Linked DNA regions of Homo sapiens. The protein of the gene in region 2 interacts with the protein of the main gene of each other region in a biochemical or structural test. Each region holds a gene or a part of one and is shown on either strand. Other genes may lie near its edges.

Region 1 (3,751 bases), on a different chromosome or scaffold from region 2:
TTTAGTGTGAGAGAACGTCTGTTGAGAGAAATGTGGATTGGATAGCGTTTGGAGGTGAGTAGATGAGGGAGGTCTACCTAGCTAGTTATTACCCTCTGGAAGCACTTCAGCTGACAGAACTACAATGGGCTTTTGAGGCTCTCTCCTTCAAAACTTGCTCAAGACCATTTCTCCCATGTTTCCCGTGGTAGGAAGGATCTAGCGGTCATGACCTGCACCAGGAGGTCTGGCCTACCAATAGGACACATGTCCTCACAGAGGAGACAAACACAGAGGGCTAGGCTGATCAGGAAGAGAAACCAGTAGCTACAGAAAAATTCCCCTGGAGTAATTCATTAACGGTCACAGGCTTGTCTCAAAGTCATCTTGACATTGCCAAAGTCTGGTTGAGCTGATGGTAATTCACTCTGAATAGCCACAGGAGAGGAAGCCTTGCCTTGGTAGAACATGAATCCAGGAGTGGCAATGACCCCTTTCCTCCCACCTCCAGCTTCTGGGAATCTTTTTGCTTTAGAGCTTTGTGGTTAGGGGATTAACTAACTAGTCTTGAATGCTGGGACTAAGGAGTCATTCAGCTGCAGAAATAAAACTCAGTGTTAACCTTCCTAACCACACATTTTCATTTTTCTTTTTTCTCAAATGTTGGGTAATGTTTACTGTCAAGGAGCTGAAGCTGGCTTTTGTAGGTTATATTTCCAGTCTTAGGGACTTAAATTTCAAAGTTAACTTATGCGTTTGTTTCTCTTTATCATCTTTCTTCAAACAGAGCGTGATATCCTGGGGGTGGCTGCACTGTTACAGATGTAGACTGCCTCCACCAGGATACAGGGGTTGTTGCCTGGGGATGGACAGACAGAATGATGGAAGGTAGGAAGGAGAGAAGAAAGTGAATGATAATTTAGTTCCAAGGTATGGTGGAGAGAACACATGTTGAGAGTTCAGAGGCTCATCCTGCTGCCTATTAGTTGGGTGACCTTTGGCAAGTTACTGAACTTCAGGTAGCCTCAGTGTCCTTATCTGTAAGTGGGTGGGAAGATGCAAACTGTAATGATGATAATGTGAAATTCTAAAGTCCATGTCTCAGTGCCTGGCAAATCAGTGCGTAGTGGACAGTGTTTTTGTTCCTTCCCCCTCACCAGCTTCTTGCAGACAAGACCACCTTCAAGTCAACAAGACTGTCACTTTTATGATGCCAGGAGGCCTGGGGAACAGCCCAGCACTGGGACTCTCTAGGGGTCACCATGGGCCAGTCATTTTATGACCATATTCCTAAGTCTCTGCTAAAAAAACAGGATTAGACTAGCTCTGTCACGCTTGCTTCCTGCTGTAGAAGTCTGTACCTCTCTTCCTTCATACACACATGACATTGTGCAGCAGAAGAGTTCACACCCTCAAATCACAGGCTTTTGTCAGTTTTTCCCAAGGTGTAAAAATGGAGACAATTGGCATGAGGTGTGTGGTGTGATGCTGGAATTCCATTTTTGCAATTAAAATCTGTGAATCTGTTTACCTCTCATAAAACCAATCTCTAATATTCTCCCCTCAAATTGCACATCGTTTAAGGCTCCTGCCTCTTGTTAGTAGCATTTGAGAGTGGCGTAAAAGGAAGAGGACGACGAAGAAAGGGTCTTTTATTCCAACTCACTTTTTTTGTATCCTCACCAATTCTGAATAAGGAAGTGATATTACATGATGGGGCAGGGGTGCATTTTGTTCCTGGACACCAGCTTTGCTGCCCTTGCCTTGGCCTGGACAGCTTAAACTGACTGGCCAGTGAGCCCTGAGTGGCACCCTGACAGGGCTGGCCCTTGCCTGCTCCTGACCCTCCACTCCACCACCTCAGAGCTCACCCATAGACTTGTCTCCTTGGCCCTTTCTTCCAGAGGACAGCCTGGGGAGGAACCCCCAGGACATGAGCTGGCCAAGCGCTCTGCTTTTGGTAGGATTTTACATTTATTTGGGCTTAGAGAGAAGGAGTTTCCCCCTTTCCCTTTCTTCACTCCTGAGTCAGGGTCTGTAAAGCCCTATTGGCCCAGGGTCGGTGCTGTTGACCTCCCAGAAACAGGCCCACTCTTGAAATCTTTAGATTCACCTTTATTGCTTGGGCTTTTAGTAAGGAACTCTACCCATTTGGGTTCATGGTTCCATTTGGTTGATGGGATATTTTGTCAAGATTGGAATTTGGTCCAGGAGAGCATCAGGGGGGTTCGGTTATATGGGGTGGGGTGGGGTCTTGTGCCGCCTTTGCATCCCCAGTACAAATGCGTGGTGACTCCTGGTGGAGGGAGCCCAAGTCTGAACATATGTAAGATGGGCCTTGCCTCACTCCCTTTGAAGCCCAGCCGCAGCCGGAGAGCAGTAATTGCTGGCTTTGATTGCGCAGACTTCACTGGTGGGTTGGGCTGTGCCGGGGCTCGCCTGGCCTGGCCCAGCTTCAGCCGCAGCCCCCCAGTGAAGCCTTAGATGTGGGAAAGCTCCAGCCCCTGGAGCCTCATGCCTGTGGTTTCTTGAAAATAATCTGGACTGGACCTGTTTTATATCTGTAAAGCAACACTACAAGGCCCCCGTTTCTCCCACTTGGAAGTAAGACTTGGTCTCCCCTGACATCCCTGTATTTTAAAAGAGCCACCAGGGACAAACTGCCTCATTTCATAGTGAAGGAATTTCTTTGCTCTTTTTTTTTTTTAAGCACTAGTCCCTGAAAGGGATTAGTTGCTTTTTGGTAAGCAACTGTACAGAGGTTCTCTGAAGCCAACTTTCCAGGAGAATTTGCAAGGTGACCCCATGGAATAAGGAAATAACAGGTGGGAAAATGTGAGACTGTGGAAAGAAATGACTTTATTAGGAGATATAGACTCTTTCTTGGCAAGTGACATACTATCCTTTAGGTAAATGGCTATCTCTGGGCACCCATGTTTGTGTTAATCACTATATTATCACTTGTACTCAGCTTAAGAGAGGAGGAGAAGGCACCCTTAGGTAAGGCAGTGAAGGGACAAGAAGACTGGTGGAGCCGGAAGTGCAGGGTGCTCTAGATTGGAGGTGTTAGCCCTGCTTGAGAATGGGGCCACAGCAGGGCCATGGAAGTTGTCTGTACCTCAGTACTTCACAGTTCGCTGTGCCAGGCAGTGGTGGGATGGCCCAACAGAAGGGCAGGTTGTCTCCCTCAGGCGTTCCTGGCTGCCAATGGCGAGTCTATTCTGAGTCCCAGTGCTTGTCTCAGGCGCTAGCCTAGGACTGCAAGGCCAGGCCTCACCAGGAAACTAAATGTTTTCATGTCAGACTGAGAGGAAAACCTTCCCAGGAAGAGCAACCTGGACCAAGCCTTTGAAAATCTGTGATGCAAAATTATAATGTAAATAGGAATCTGTGGGGTGCCCTCTCTCCCACCCCAGGCTCTGCTAGAGCCCTGTTTCTTTCTCCGTAGAAAGGCAGGGTCCTTCGTAGCTCTTTGATCCTCCTGCGTGCAAGATCCATACCTCTGTGGGCCTGGCACAGCGAACTGTGAAGTACTGAGGTACAGACAACTTCCATGGCCCTGCTGTGGCCCCATTCTCAAGCAGGGCTAACACCTCCAATCTAGAGCACCCTGCACTTCCGGCTCCACCAGTCTTCTTGTCCCTTCACTGCCTTACCTAAGGGTGCCTTCTCCTCCTCTCTTAAGCTGAGTACAAGTGATAATATAGTGATTAACACAATGCTGTAGTGTTTTCCTGTTAAACAGGGAATGGTTGATTTTCCAGGAGAATAG
Region 2 (3,751 bases):
GATAAAGATGGGCAGACAGGGATCTATAAAGGGCTCCAAGAAAAAAATATTCTTAGTGCTACCATGAAAGACTTAAGTATCTATTACCATTCCTGTTTCATTGCCTTTTCGGTAACCCGCCACAAACGGGAGCAGAGAAAGTAAAGGCAAGGCTTATCAGGAAGTGTTGACACAACCTAAACACGGGCTGTGGGCACCACACCAGGAAAGGAAACCACAATTATACCATTCTTGATTTGGATGCACTTTCACTTTAAAACTTCCAGACAGGAAAGTCAGCAGTGAGATTTGACACTGAAATCTCTAGAACTCACTCCGACAAACCCGTTGAAAGGTGGGAAGGGAGAGCGGTCGTCACACTGGAGACAAATCTTAACAGCATTAAAGCTCTCTGTACGGAAAGTTTCCCCATCACTGCATTTTTTTTTTTTTTTTAGTAACAAAGATGTTGTCAAAAATGACAATTTTTTGTGTCCCCTGATGATGCCTTGCTAGCATTTGGTTATAAGCCATAAAGCAGGAATAATTTCAGCCTGTCAGGAGTCTCGCTAATGCCCAGTTTCCCCCTAGAGAGAATTCCTGTCAAATCTAATGAGAGCTCCAAAGGCCCTCTCTACAATATAATGAGCACTTAGGCCATGCTGGTGATCAGGCGGCAAAAAGCATCAATTTGAGCTTGGCTACACCCTGGGGGCCAGACGTCACCAGTTTTAATAAGAATTATGATTACTAGCTGCACCAAATGCCTCCTCAGAACTTATTATTAATGTGTGACATTCAGAAGGATGTTTTTCAAATGTAAGTCCACTTTAAACTGAATTATAGCACTACTTTGCACAGCACTCTAGTTAAGGGTCTGTCAGCATTTCCAATATCAACTAAATTTCAGGAGGCTCAGTACCCTACTATGAAGAACATGGTGTCTCTCAGCTTTTCACGTTTTTCAAATTGCTAAGCCAATTATACACAGCATATTATTAATGCATACAGGCTCACGGACAGACAGTATATAGCCACAAATGCCTCACTCTGTATAGAAACTCATTAGAAAACTATTCTCACACCATGGTGCTTCTGACCCACTTCACCCCTTCTCCCTACATGATAAAGAAGAGGTCATCCCGCCACATAACCTACAGGAACCCAGAAGAATTACACACCTCTTTTAGCTCCTCCAATAAACCCAGCACCAGCATATAGCATCACACTGAGGTGGTGTTCCCTTGTAAAAGAGTCAATGAGGTTATTAAATCCTTTGAGTTTATGGGTTTAAGAAAAAGCTCAGTCTCCTCTTACTCTTCCATAATATCTGTTATCCAAAAAAAAGTGCCCTTCAGAGTAAATTAAAAAAAAAAAAAAAGATTAAACCGCCTAGGCCAAGTTTATTTGCATAATTCACTTAAATGACGATAGATGTTAGCCACAGATCTTCTAGCCCATTTACTATCAAGAAGTTACAAGTGCCTGAATAAGGCACTAGCCACTGAGAAACACACAAAAACAAAGGCACAAACCCAACATAAAGTAGGCTACCAACTTTGTAAATCATAGTAAAATCTGCATTTTTAAAGGCCCAATTACATTATTAATAAAAGGCCCTGAAAATCACAATCTCTTTCCAAACACAAATCTGAGAACAGATCTAATGTACACGATAACTTAACATTATGAAATCTATGATGAATTAAAAATCAAAGAGTGCGGAGTTACAAAAGCAGAATTCAACTCTGAAACACACTTGCTTAATGAAAGTCTTTGAATATAAGGAAGATCTGAAGGCTGAACTAATCAATTTCTCCACTGTGCCCCAGCCGGTCAGCCATGCTCTTTAATTTAATGAAACAAGGGTTTGAGATGAAATAGCACATATACATCAAGTAAGAATTGTATTGTTGCACTTTGAAATGTGTCCAACTGTGCAACTTCATCTGATGATAATTTTTTAAGAGGCAATCGATTTCTAAAAGACTTATTGTACCAGCGTCTTGATGAAAAAGTGAATGTCAGCGTATCTCCAGAATACTTACACCCTGCCATTAATGCTTTCTTTGGCAGACAATGACTACTCAATCGAGGGTCCTTTGGGCTGAGCAATCATTTAGCTTTTCTTCTCTTATGAGGTCCTTAGTGCCTTGTTCCAGCTCAATACTCTTTTTATACACCATTATAGTAGCCATAAGTGTGAATTTTATGGGAACTTGCAAACTCATAGTCATTGCTAGAGCTTTCCAGTCACTAATCTTTTCATGCTTTAAAAACCACTAGGACTGAAGCAACTCCCAACATATGCTCTGGCCATAAAAAGATGCTTTTTTCACATCCACACCTGCAACAACTGAGAAATTTTTCAAAAATTTGTTTGCTAATAAGCCACTAATCCTGACTATTGCTTCATGCAGCCCCAAAGCATAAAGAATACTCCACAGATAGTCATATACCTTGATTACCACGATTAAAAAAAACTCCTGAATACCCTTCTTTCCCCCCAACAGGTCCACACTTCCTTGCAAAACAGCACAAAAACATTAACTATTCTAAACTTCAGCAACTGTAGAAGATACCCAGCCCTTTCAAGAGGATAAATCTATACAGGTGAAAAAGTAAACTCAAGTCTTAATTCCTATCTGTCAATAAAGAGGCTAGTTTATATTTCCAAAACACCTCTCCCTCTCCTAGTCATTTAAACACTTGTAATTATCAAGAAGCAACCCTTGATGCAGAATACTACCATCAATCCACAGGACAGGAAACCAAGGCAGAAAAATAGCATACAAACCCCCACCCCTAGAGCCCACTACTGAGAACAAAGCCAGTATTATTAAATCATATGAACTGATGTCTCATTTCAGCTTGAAGTTCAACTAAAGCTTACCTGTTTGTGCATTTCAATGTTTAATCCATATGACATTTCATAATACTGTAAAGAGAAAAAAGAATCAAGCATTTCATTAACTCATGTTTTTTACACTCTGCTAACACGTTTGCTAATATCATATGAAAAAGGAAAAAGTCCAATCTTTGATACCTACCATCACATAGTGCCTCTGCATTTCTGTCTTTTCACTTGCCAGTTTCTCACATTCCAATTTAAGGCTAGGAAAACAAAACAGGCAACTTAATGTAAACATTATGTCACTTGTTTTAACATCTGCCTCACATATTTGCACTTCAAGTAAAAACACAGACCAATTTGGAAAAGCCATAAACTATCTAGGTAAACACCCAAAAGCTTTGTCCTTGCATTTAATAGGGAAAAGGAATAATGTGAACAATACAAGGTGTCCATTCAGCTACCATTCTTCTTGGTGCCTATCTGGTTAGATGACAAGAATGAAAAAAATCTGTCAGAACCTCTAACTGATTCCTCCTCATGGTCATCTGCTCCCTACCTTCCTGCATCAGTTTGTTTCTCTGTACTCCACCAAAATCCGGCCCTTGCACAATCTTCACTCTTAGGCATAGGCTGTGCCATCTTTGCCAACTCAAACGGTCTCTAGGTTTGAAAATCCTATCTGTTAAGTTACTCCTACAATTGCTGGTCCCTTTCAAAACCTTTGGTTTTTAAATCCCTGCCAAAATATGTCAAGTAGCTACTGCAATAAAGTGGGTTGAAGTTCTCCCTGCTGGGTAAACACGGTGTGTGCAAGTATGCCTCAAGCTGCAGAGATATTATCTACAAGTAGACAAAAGGTCAATAATGAGAAAGCCCCTGACAAAGTAAGAAAATTCACACCCAAGCCACTTCGCCTCA

The links. The genes of interacting proteins can lie anywhere in the genome.
Region 1: the proteins of TLE1 (region 2) and LEF1 form a complex in vitro, tested with the Homo sapiens proteins (2 studies listed by BioGRID and IntAct, with this or other methods).

The regions. Positions count from the first base shown.
Region 1 is NC_000004.12:108,050,196-108,053,946, reverse strand, and holds part of LEF1 (lymphoid enhancer-binding factor 1), read left to right. Parts: intron 1-3,751. UniProt on the Homo sapiens protein: Transcription factor that binds DNA in a sequence-specific manner. Participates in the Wnt signaling pathway. Activates transcription of target genes in the presence of CTNNB1 and EP300.
Region 2 is NC_000009.12:81,682,804-81,686,554, forward strand, and holds part of TLE1 (transducin-like enhancer protein 1), read right to left. Parts: intron 3,094-3,751; coding exon 3,030-3,093; intron 2,918-3,029; coding exon 2,873-2,917; intron 1-2,872. UniProt on the Homo sapiens protein: Transcriptional corepressor that binds to a number of transcription factors. Inhibits NF-kappa-B-regulated gene expression. Inhibits the transcriptional activation mediated by FOXA2, and by CTNNB1 and TCF family members in Wnt signaling.